Regions from separate parts of the Homo sapiens genome. Here region 1 is reported to be linked to region 2. The links are microRNA targets in miRTarBase. Many come from high-throughput screens and were not tested one by one. Region 2 holds a microRNA gene; the other region holds the end of a gene's coding sequence.
What was found. The annotated mature microRNA hsa-miR-6511a-5p reads CAGGCAGAAGUGGGGCUGACAGG and lies in region 2 at 3,128-3,150, shown strand. An mRNA with a match to its seed (bases 2 to 7 or 8) in the 3' UTR can be bound and repressed. Matches are read on the target gene's strand: a 7mer-m8 pairs with bases 2 to 8, a 7mer-A1 pairs with bases 2 to 7 and ends in A, and an 8mer does both.

Region 1 (5,000 bases), not on the chromosome of region 2:
TACGCGTCCCGTGCGTCTCTGCGGCGGCGGAAGCGGAAGCGAGTACGGAGGTACCAGCTGGTCTCCGTAGGGGGGTAGGGGGCTCCATGAATGGAAGCGGCGGCGGCGGCGGGAGCGGCCTGAGCTGGGCGCCGGGGCCAGGGCCGGGGGCTGCCCAGGGCCCGCGCCGCTGCATGGGGGCGGCCCGCGGGCCCTGAGAGGAAGGGCAGACAGGCGGGCCGAGATAGGAGGGGCGGGGTCGGGCGGCCGCAGGCCGGAGGCGCGTCGGGCTGGAGCCGGTCACGATGCCCCGAAGGAAGCAAAGCCACCCGCAGCCCGTGAAATGCGAGGGGGTCAAAGGTCAGGGGTCAGGGGCCTTGAGGGGAGAGGAGCGGGGGTGGGGTCAGTGGAGTGGGCTCAGGTCAGGGTGGAGGGGGACTCCTGAGGGATGAAGTGGGCGATCCAGACTCCTAGCTTCCCACCGAGGCACTAAGGGAATCAGAGTGGGTCAGCGAGTACGGGAAGTGTGGTCCACGAGGGCTGGTTCCTGAGGGAGAATCCACAAGCCCCCTCCCCTCTTCAGTGGATACTGAAGACTCCCTCGACGAAGGACCCGGGGCCCTGGTATTGGAGAGTGATTTGCTACTAGGCCAGGATCTGGAGTTTGAGGAGGAAGAGGAAGAGGAGGAAGGCGACGGCAACAGTGACCAGCTCATGGGCTTCGAGAGAGACTCGGAAGGTGGGTTTTCGGGTCTTGGTTAAGGATTAGCGGCCGCTGGAGACCCCAGCCCTTCAGGAGGCAGGTTAGGTGAACAGAACACCATTTCCTGCCACAACCGAGGGCTGGTTTAGTTTACATTTGAGCTAGATGACTTCATTTGTTTAATGGTCCAATCACTTCCATCACTTTGTTGAGGTGAAGTTCTGAGGCCTGGTCAAAGGTGATAGGAATAGGAGGGTGGGTGAATCACATGGAGCAACTGATTAAAAGTAAATGCCCTGTCTCTCTCCCTAGCCCATTCCTTATGTGTATTTACTTTTAAGAGAGGTTCAGGGAAGCAAACTCTCTGTAAATCATTCAACCCAGTATTTAGGTCTAATCTAACTCCCTTTCACCTGCAGCGTAAGCTCCTTTTGTATTGAGAGGTTTTAGTTTCTGTCTTTATCCTTCCATGTCCCTCTTCCCTGTGATCTTAGCATCACCCTACCCTAATTTGCTGCACTACCCATCCACTTATGCAAGATGTTTTTTGAAAGTCATTGAGGGGATCCATGTAAATATCTGTTCTTTAGGCAGGCAAGTGGTATTACATGCATTACTTTCATTGTCTCCACTTCCCTCCAAATTTTGCCTCAGAGATAGGTTTTATTTTATATCAGCTCCTTACTAAAAGGGGCCTTAGCAATAGAGCTTAGAAAAAGGTCTTGGGGGCTCTCTCCCTTTCGTATTTTTACTTTCTTGTCTCAAGAATTAATTTCATTATGGATTCATTTCAGTCTGTGATCCACTGTGAGCCCTTGATCCTTGACCATTGAGGGAAACTAGATACAGGTCAATTCTACCATCACTAGATTAGTCCAGTGTAAGAGGTAGACAATTCATGTTGAATTTTCTGGAATTACTGCAGGGGAGACCTTGATTCCTAGGAGGGAACTAAAGGGATCATCAAAGCTAAGGGTGGAGCCAAGCAAGTGGGGAGACCATAAGTGAAAAGGGGAGAGTTTGGAGCCTGATCCTACCCTATGCTGATGTCTCTTCTTATGTCTATTTCACCAGGAGACTCTCTGGGGGCCAGGCCTGGGCTTCCCTATGGGCTGAGCGACGATGAGTCTGGGGGCGGCCGGGCACTAAGTGCGGAGAGTGAAGTTGAGGAGCCAGCCAGGGGTCCAGGGGAGGCCAGGGGTGAGAGGCCAGGCCCAGCCTGCCAGCTGTGTGGGGGGCCGACAGGTGAGGGGCCGTGTTGTGGGGCAGGAGGGCCGGGTGGGGGGCCCCTGCTGCCCCCACGGCTACTGTACTCATGCCGCCTCTGCACCTTCGTGTCCCACTACTCGAGCCACCTGAAGCGGCACATGCAGACACACAGCGGAGAGAAGCCGTTCCGCTGTGGCCGCTGCCCCTACGCCTCAGCCCAGCTCGTCAACCTGACACGACATACCCGCACCCACACTGGCGAGAAGCCCTACCGCTGTCCCCACTGCCCCTTTGCCTGCAGCAGCCTGGGCAACCTGAGGCGGCATCAGCGTACCCACGCAGGGCCCCCCACTCCTCCCTGCCCGACCTGTGGCTTCCGCTGCTGTACTCCACGACCAGCCCGGCCTCCCAGTCCCACAGAGCAGGAGGGGGCGGTGCCCCGGCGACCTGAAGGTAAGACACACCAGGGACCAAAGATCTTGGGACATGGGTGGCTGACCCTAGGAATGCTTGGATTGGATTCATAGCCCAGGTCTTTGTCCCCACAGATGCTCTGCTCCTTCCAGATTTGAGCCTCCATGTGCCACCAGGTGGTGCCAGTTTCCTGCCAGACTGTGGGCAGCTGCGGGGTGAAGGGGAGGGCCTCTGCGGGACTGGATCAGAACCACTGCCAGAGCTGCTATTCCCTTGGACCTGCCGGGGCTGTGGACAAGAGCTGGAGGAGGGTGAGGGTAGTCGGCTGGGAGCTGCCATGTGTGGGCGCTGCATGCGAGGAGAGGCTGGAGGGGGTGCCAGTGGGGGGCCCCAGGGCCCCAGTGACAAAGGCTTTGCCTGTAGCCTCTGCCCCTTTGCCACTCACTATCCCAACCACCTGGCCCGGCACATGAAGACACACAGTGGTGAGAAGCCCTTCCGCTGCGCCCGCTGTCCTTATGCCTCTGCTCATCTGGATAACCTGAAACGGCACCAGCGCGTCCATACAGGAGAGAAGCCCTACAAGTGCCCCCTCTGCCCTTATGCCTGTGGCAATCTGGCCAACCTCAAGCGTCATGGTCGCATCCACTCTGGTGACAAACCTTTTCGGTGTAGCCTTTGCAACTACAGCTGCAACCAGAGCATGAACCTCAAACGTCACATGCTGCGGCACACAGGCGAGAAGCCCTTCCGCTGTGCCACCTGCGCCTATACCACGGGCCACTGGGACAACTACAAGCGCCACCAGAAGGTGCATGGCCACGGTGGGGCAGGAGGGCCTGGTCTCTCTGCCTCTGAGGGCTGGGCCCCACCTCATAGCCCACCCTCTGTTTTGAGCTCTCGGGGCCCACCAGCCCTGGGGACTGCTGGCAGCCGGGCTGTCCACACAGACTCATCCTGAACTAGGTCCTTCTTCCCCATGTTTTATACAGACGGACCAGAAGCCACCTTTTTCTCCCCCGCTGGCCAGGGGCTCCACACAGACTAACGTAGGCACTATAAGGACCAGCCCAACCCCATGGGCGGGGGGGCCCATATGGACCAGGGGACCTTGCCTTGACTGAGGCACTTCACGAGCTCAGTGAGAAGGGCCCTGTATTCACCTCCACTGCCCCCAGGGGCTGTGGACAAACCGGCTGGGGGACTGCCCAGCCTCCCACCTGTTTATTTAACTTATTTCAGTGCTTTATAATAAAGGAAACACTAACAAAGCCATGTCTATGCTGAATTGGCAATGGCAGGCAATTTGGCCTTACCCTTAGCATAGTAGTCCATGCTGTGATGGGGGAAGCAGGGGCAGTGAGAGGGAACCAGAGGTAGGCAGCAGTCAGGCTGAGTTTAATGATGGGGAACTGGGCCAGACCAAACACAGACCTCTGCCCATCCCCTTGGCCTTTGGCCCATGGCTCCAAGAGGCCAGAAGCGGCCCAGAGGGAGATATGGTTCCTCCCCAAGGCAGGCAGCCATGGTCCCTTAGACTTTGTGCAAAATACTAAATGCTAATTTGGCATCGAGGGCCAGCTCTGAAAAGAGAAGGGGCAATCCTCTGTGCAGCCAGCCCAGGGGACAAGGAAAGGTAGGATACGAGGCCCCTGGCCAAGAGAAAAGGGGTAGGTAGGAAAGAAGAAGGAAAAGACCCCTCCGCCCCTAGCATGGGGGACACAGGCACAGGGCAAGTTTCTGTAAATTCCTCTGGGGTAGAGGGCAGACATCCAAGCAGTGGAGATTACAGATCCTCATCTCCAATGCCCTCGAAGGCGAAATTGCCGTGGACATCACTGGCACTGGCATCTGTGCTGGGACTGCCAATTCCCCGCAAGCTCACGGCACTCAGCTTACTCTGTAACAAAGGCAGGGTGGGGTCAGAGATCTTGGGCGTGCAAGATCCCCCAACAAACAGCAACCTCACCAACGCTGGAACTCACTGAGAGTTTGACCATAGACTCCCGGGTGGCATCAGGTGACTCCTGGGGAAGAAGAGGCAGAGGTGTCAGAAACTCACTAGGAGAGGTGAGGCAGGGCTGAGAGCCAGGGTTCTGACCAGGAGGTAATACTTACAAGCAGTGGTGGGGACTTCACTGCTTGCTGGCTGTCTGAGCGTCTCAGAGTACCCCCCACCCGCCGGCGCAGCATCTGGGGACAGACACAAGGTGCCGGTGAGGGCAGGATCACTTCCCCTCCCTCTCAAGACAAGCCTCACATCTAGGACAAAAGGCAAGGGGAGCACACCTGCTCACTGCTCAGTCCACACTTGCTGCCTACCTTCCTGATACTGCCGCCAGATTTCTTCACCATCAGTTCATCAACCATGGACTGCAAGCAGATGCTCATCATGATAGCCTGAGGGCAAGAAGAGTGTCCAGCTTGATGAGAGTGGTCACTCTGAGCCCAGCACCACTAATGCCTCCCATATTGAGTACTGGAAACTCTACACTTTAAGGTGCTCCAGAGGAGGGCTGAGGGTAGGTTCACACCTGGGGGCTAGTGATGGTGACCCACTGTAGCCGGTCCTTGCTCATGAGGTATTCAAAAGCCAGTTCCAGGCGCACCTCACCCCGGCCCCGGCCTGGGCTGCTCGTGCTTCCACTGGGCAATGGTACCTGGGAGAGGAAGGGGAATTCGGTTGAGTTCACTC
Region 2 (5,172 bases):
CTCACACAGGGCGTGAGGCCTGGCTTCCCAGTGAGGGCAGCAGCCCAGTTACTGGGGACGTCGGCCCCGGGCAGGTCCTGCTGGCTGGCTCCTCAGGCTACCTGGTGGGCTTTAAATTCCTGGAAAGTCACGGCTCTGACAGCGGCTCCGCTAACTCATTCCACCGTCTCATTTCACGAAATGAATTTAAAACTCCGCTCCCTGACCTCACACGAGTCCCCGTGAGTCTCTCACGCCCTCTGCTGTGTTCTCGCCTGGCTAAAGCAAGTGGCTTTTGAGGTGGAGTCCGAACCCCTGATGGGAAACTGCGGGCTGCCCGCGGTGCCACCATGCTGGGTACATGGGGGACAGGGCTGTTCCATCTTGCGGGTACCTGCCCCTTCACCAGGGGCCTTGGGAGGGGCCATGAGAAATGGCGTGACCTGTGCAGCCTGTCCTGGGTTCTGTAAGCCAGTGTAGGTGCTGTCCCTGTGAGGCCCGTGTGCCTCCCCTCACTGCTCCGAGCTCTCTGGCTGAGGAGCTGGGGCAGGAGCCCCGGGAGGGTCTGAGAAGACTCAGAGAGAGGTGGACTCTTTGTAGCTGGTACTAGGTTTGCTTTACAGATGGGGAAACTGAGGCACAGAGAGGTTGAGGCATTAGTAGTACTACATGGCTGGCTGGAGAGCCGGACAGTCAGTGTCCCAGCCCGGGCTTGGCTCTCATGGCATGCAGAGCCCCGGGCACCTCCTCTCCTCTGTGCCCCACGTGGGACTCTCCAGCCCGACGGGAGGTGTGTCCAGGAGGCGACAGGCTAAGGGCAGAGTCCTCCACAGAGCCCAGGCTGACACCAGTCCCCCCGCAGAGGTACAGCCCCGTGGTGGAGGCCGGCTCGGACATGGTCTTCTGGTGGACCATCAACGACAAGCAGTCCCTGACCTTCCAGAACGTGGTCTTCAATGTCATTTATCAGAGCGCGGCGGTCTTCAAGCTCTCAGTAGGTGGGCGGGAGTGGGGAGGGGAGGGGATGGGGCGGGGCGGGGGCGGGCTCCACCTTCACCTCTGCCTTCTGCTCTGCTTCATGCTGCCCGAGGACGCTGCCATGGCTGTGGTGAGTGGAGGGAGGGACGCCAAGCAGGGCAGGCCTCTCACCTGCCACCTGGGCCCACTGATGCCTGTCCCTGCAGCTGACGGCCTCCAACCACGTGAGCAACGTCACCGTGAACTACAACATCACCGTGGAGCGGATGAACAGGATGCAGGGCCTGCGGGTCTCTACAGTGCCAGCCGTGCTGTCCCCCAATGCCACGCTGGCACTGACGGCGGGCGTGCTGGTGGACTCGGCCGTGGAGGTGGCCTTCCTGTGAGTGACTCAGGGGCCGGTTTGGGGTGGGCACCAGGCTCTTGTCCGGGCACCAGGCTCTTGTCCCGGCTCCAGCCTCAGCCGAGGGACCCCACATCAGGGGGTTGCTTTTCTGAGCCTCGGTTTCCCTGTCTGTTGGGAGGTACTGGGTGCACAGGAGCCCTGAGGCTGCACGGGAGCCGGGAGAGGCCTCAGCACAGCCGGGTGGGCCCTGAATGGAGGCCCGGGGCGTGACTGCAGAGTGGAGCCTCGGCTGGGTCCCAAGCACCCCCTGCCCCGCCACCGCGCACCTGTGCCCCGCCACTGCGCACCCCTGTCCCGGTTCACTCACTGCCTCCCACCGCCCCGGCAGGTGGACCTTTGGGGATGGGGAGCAGGCCCTCCACCAGTTCCAGCCTCCATACAACGAGTCCTTCCCGGTTCCAGACCCCTCGGTGGCCCAGGTGCTGGTGGAGCACAATGTCACCCACACCTACGCTGCCCCAGGTGAGGGATGAGGGGGTGAGGGGGCCACTGCCTTTCAGGCTCTGAGCACGGGGCCCCCCCAGTCCCCCAGTCAAGCTGCCCCGCTTCCTCCCCAACAGCCCTCACTGTGACCTCACCTGGGCTGATGGCTTAGGCCCCTACTGGGGTGAGGGAGGGGCCAGGCGTGGGAGGAGTGGACAGGGAAGCTGGGCCCCCTGAACTGCCCCCCACCGCGGCCTGGCTCTTGCTGCTCTGCTGCCCCGAGTGCAGCTGCACTTGGAGGCGGTGCCGTCCTCACCAGGCAGCCCTCAGTGCTGCTGCACCTGTGCTCCGTCCCGCACGTGGCTTGGGAGCCTGGGACCCTTAAGGCTGGGCCGCAGGCGCAGCCGTTCACCCCGGGCTCCTCAGGCGGGGGGCTTCTGCCGAGCGGGTGGGGAGCAGGTGGGGGTGCCGCGGCTGCCCCACTTGGGCCTGTCCCCACAGGTGAGTACGTCCTGACCTTGCTGGCATCTAATGCCTTCGAGAACCGGACGCAGCAGGTGCCTGTGAGCGTGTGCGCCTCCCTGCCCTCTGTGAGTGTGTGCGCCTCCCTGACTGGGGCCTGCTGGTACCCCAGAGTGGGTGTCTGTTCCCCAGTCCCTGCTTTCCTCAGCTGGCCTGATTGGGGGTCTGCCCAGAGGGGTCGTCTGAGGGGAGGGTGTGGGAGCAGGTTCCATCCCGGCTCAGCCTCCTGACCCAGGCCCTGGCTAAGGGCTGCAGGAGTCTGTGAGTCAGGCCTACGTGGCAACTGCGGTCCTCACACCCCCACATACGTCTGTTCCCACACGCATCCCCCCAGGGGCCCTCAGTGAGCATTGCCTGCCTCCTGTCAGGGTCCAGCTGGCTCCAGTACACCAGAACACACACCCCAGTGTCCTCTGCCCTGTGTATGCCCTTCCGCCGCCCAGGTTGGAAGGTGGCAAACCGGATGAGTATCCTGGGAGGGGGTGAGCTCACCGGCAGTGGCCAGGCCCCTGGGAAACCTGGAGTTTGGGAGCAGCATCCTCCACGGGTCCCCCAGACCTTCCAGCAGGCCAAATAGACCTGTGTTGGAGGTAACCCCACTCCCACGCCAGGTGCTGATCCGCAGTGGCCGGGTGCCCATTGTGTCCTTGGAGTGTGTGTCCTGCAAGGCACAGGCCGTGTACGAAGTGAGCCGCAGCTCCTACGTGTACCTGGAGGGCCGCTGCCTCAATTGCAGCAGCGGCTCCAAGCGAGGGGTGAGTGTTGAGCGGGGTGTGGGCGGGTTGGGGATGGGTCCCATGGCCGAGGGGACGGGGCCTGCAGGCAGAAGTGGGGCTGACAGGGCAGAGGGTTGCGCCCCCTCACCATCCCTTCTGCCTGCAGCGGTGGGCTGCACGTACGTTCAGCAACAAGACGCTGGTGCTGGATGAGACCACCACATCCACGGGCAGCGCAGGCATGTGACTGGTGCTGCGGCGGGGCGTGCTGCGGGACGGCGAGGGATACACCTTCACGCTGACGGTGCTGGGCCGCTCTGGCGAGGAGGAGGGCTGCGCCTCCATCCCCCTGTCCCCCAACCGCCCGCCGCTGGGGGGCTCTTGCCGCCTCTTCCCACTGGGCGCTGTGCACGCTCTCACCACCAAGGTGCACTTCGAATGCATGGGTGAGTGCAGGCCTGCGTAGGGGGAGCAGCGGGATCCCCCGACTCTGTGAGGTCACGGAGCCCTCCCGTGATGCCGTGGGGACCGTCCCTCAGGCTGGCATGACGCGGAGGATGCTGGCGCCCCGCTGGTGTACGCCCTGCTGCTGCAGCGCTGTCGCCAGGGCCACTGCGAGGAGTTCTGTGTCTACAAGGGCAGCCTCTCCGGCTACGGAGCCGTGCTGCCCCCGGGTTTCAGGCCACACTTCGAGGTGGGCCTGGCCGTGGTGGTGCAGGACCAGCTGGGAGCCGCTGTGGTCGCCCTCAACAGGTGAGCCAGGCCGTGGGAGGGCGCCCCCGAGACTGCCACCTGCTCACCACCCCCCTCTGCTCGTAGGTCTCTGGCCATCACCCTCCCAGAGCCCAACGGCAGCGCAATGGGGCTCACAGTCTGGCTGCACGGGCTCACCGCTAGTGTGCTCCCGGGGCTGCTGCGGCAGGCCGATCCCCAGCACGTCATCGAGTACTCGCTGGCCCTGGTCACTGTGCTGAACGAGGTGAGTGCAGCCTGGGAGGGGACCTCACATCTGCTGCATGCGTGCTGGGGACCAAGACCTGTTCCCCTGCCTGGAGCTTTGCGGAGGGCTCATCCCGGGCCCCAGAGATAAATCCCAGTGACCCTGAAGCAGCACCCCGACGTTCCGCTCCCAGCAGCCACACCCACCGGGCCCTCTCCGGCGTCTGCTTTCCACAATGCAGCCCCCGCCCAGGAGGGCCCATGTGCTTACCCTGTTTTGCCCATGAAGAAACAGCTCAGTGTTGCGGGTCAGTGCCCACATCACACAGCATCTAGCACGTAACTGCACCCCGGGAGTCGTGGGCATCTGCTGGCCTCCTGCCGGCCTCCTGCCCTGCTGACAGCTTGCTGTGCCCCCTGCCTGCCCCAGTACGAGCGGGCCCTGGACGTGGCGGCAGAGCCCAAGCACGAGCGGCAGCGCCGAGCCCAGATACGCAAGAACATCACGGAGACTCTGGTGTCCCTGAGGGTCCACACTGTGGATGACATCCAGCAGATCGCTGCTGCGCTGGCCCAGTGCATGGTAGGATGGCCCCACATGCTCTCCCCGCCCCGCATGCCTGCCAGGGTACTGGGTTCAGCCCCCCAGGGCAGACGGGCAGCTTGGCCGAGGAGCTGAGCCTCCAGCCTGGGCTCCTTCCTGCCATGGCGTTCCTCGGTCTCTGACCTGCTTCAGTAGCCTCAGCCATTCTGCTGTCCTGTGTGAACGCAGGGTGCCTCTCGGGGGACCCAGGGTGTAAAGAGGGGCCCAGATGTGGGGAGGGACTAAGAAGATGCTGCTCTGTGCCCTCCACTCTCCCCTCCCCTCCCCCTTCCCTCCCCTAGCCCCTCCCCTCCCCTTCCCTCCCCTAACCCCTCCCCTCCCCCTTCCCTCCCCTAGTCCCTCCCCCCTCCCCTAGCCCCTGCCTCCTCCCCCAGCCCCTCCCCTCCCCTAGCCCTTCCCCTCCTCCCCTCCCCTAGACCTTCCCCTCACCTCTCCCCCTCCCCTCTCCCCTCCCCCTTCTCTCCCCTCTCCCCTCTCCCCTCCCCCTTCTCTCCCCTCCCCCCTTCTCTCCCCTCCCCTCTCCTCTCCCCCTTCTCTCCCCTCCCCTCTCCTCTCCCCCTTCTCTCCTCTCCCCTCTCCTCTCCCCCCTTCTCTCCCCTCCCCTC

Region 1: miRTarBase lists SNX17 as a target of hsa-miR-6511a-5p. Seed matches in the 3' UTR shown: 7mer-A1 at 3,683-3,689.

What each region holds. Positions count from the first base shown.
Region 1 is chr2:27,375,811-27,380,810 of GRCh38, reverse strand. SNX17 (sorting nexin 17) reads right to left here. Exons shown (of 15, transcript NM_014748.4): 11 at 4,840-4,965; 12 at 4,628-4,705; 13 at 4,424-4,498; 14 at 4,291-4,332; 15 at 3,276-4,205. The coding sequence ends at 4,092. ZNF513 (zinc finger protein 513) reads left to right here and starts at 77. Exons shown (of 4, transcript NM_144631.6): 1 at 77-339; 2 at 563-718; 3 at 1,757-2,344; 4 at 2,440-3,576. The coding sequence starts at 285. The coding sequence ends at 3,266. RefSeq lists a silencer at 105-324 and enhancers at 1,465-2,335, 2,950-3,109.
Region 2 is chr16:14,922,814-14,927,985 of GRCh38, forward strand. It overlaps MIR6511A1 (microRNA 6511a-1), which reads left to right and starts at 3,124; the gene lies at 3,124-3,190. It overlaps LOC100288162 (a long non-coding RNA gene), which reads right to left and starts at 4,470. Exons shown (of 3, transcript NR_103772.1): 1 at 4,235-4,470; 2 at 3,208-4,014; 3 at 2,937-2,969. It also overlaps the pseudogene PKD1P3-NPIPA1 and the pseudogene PKD1P3.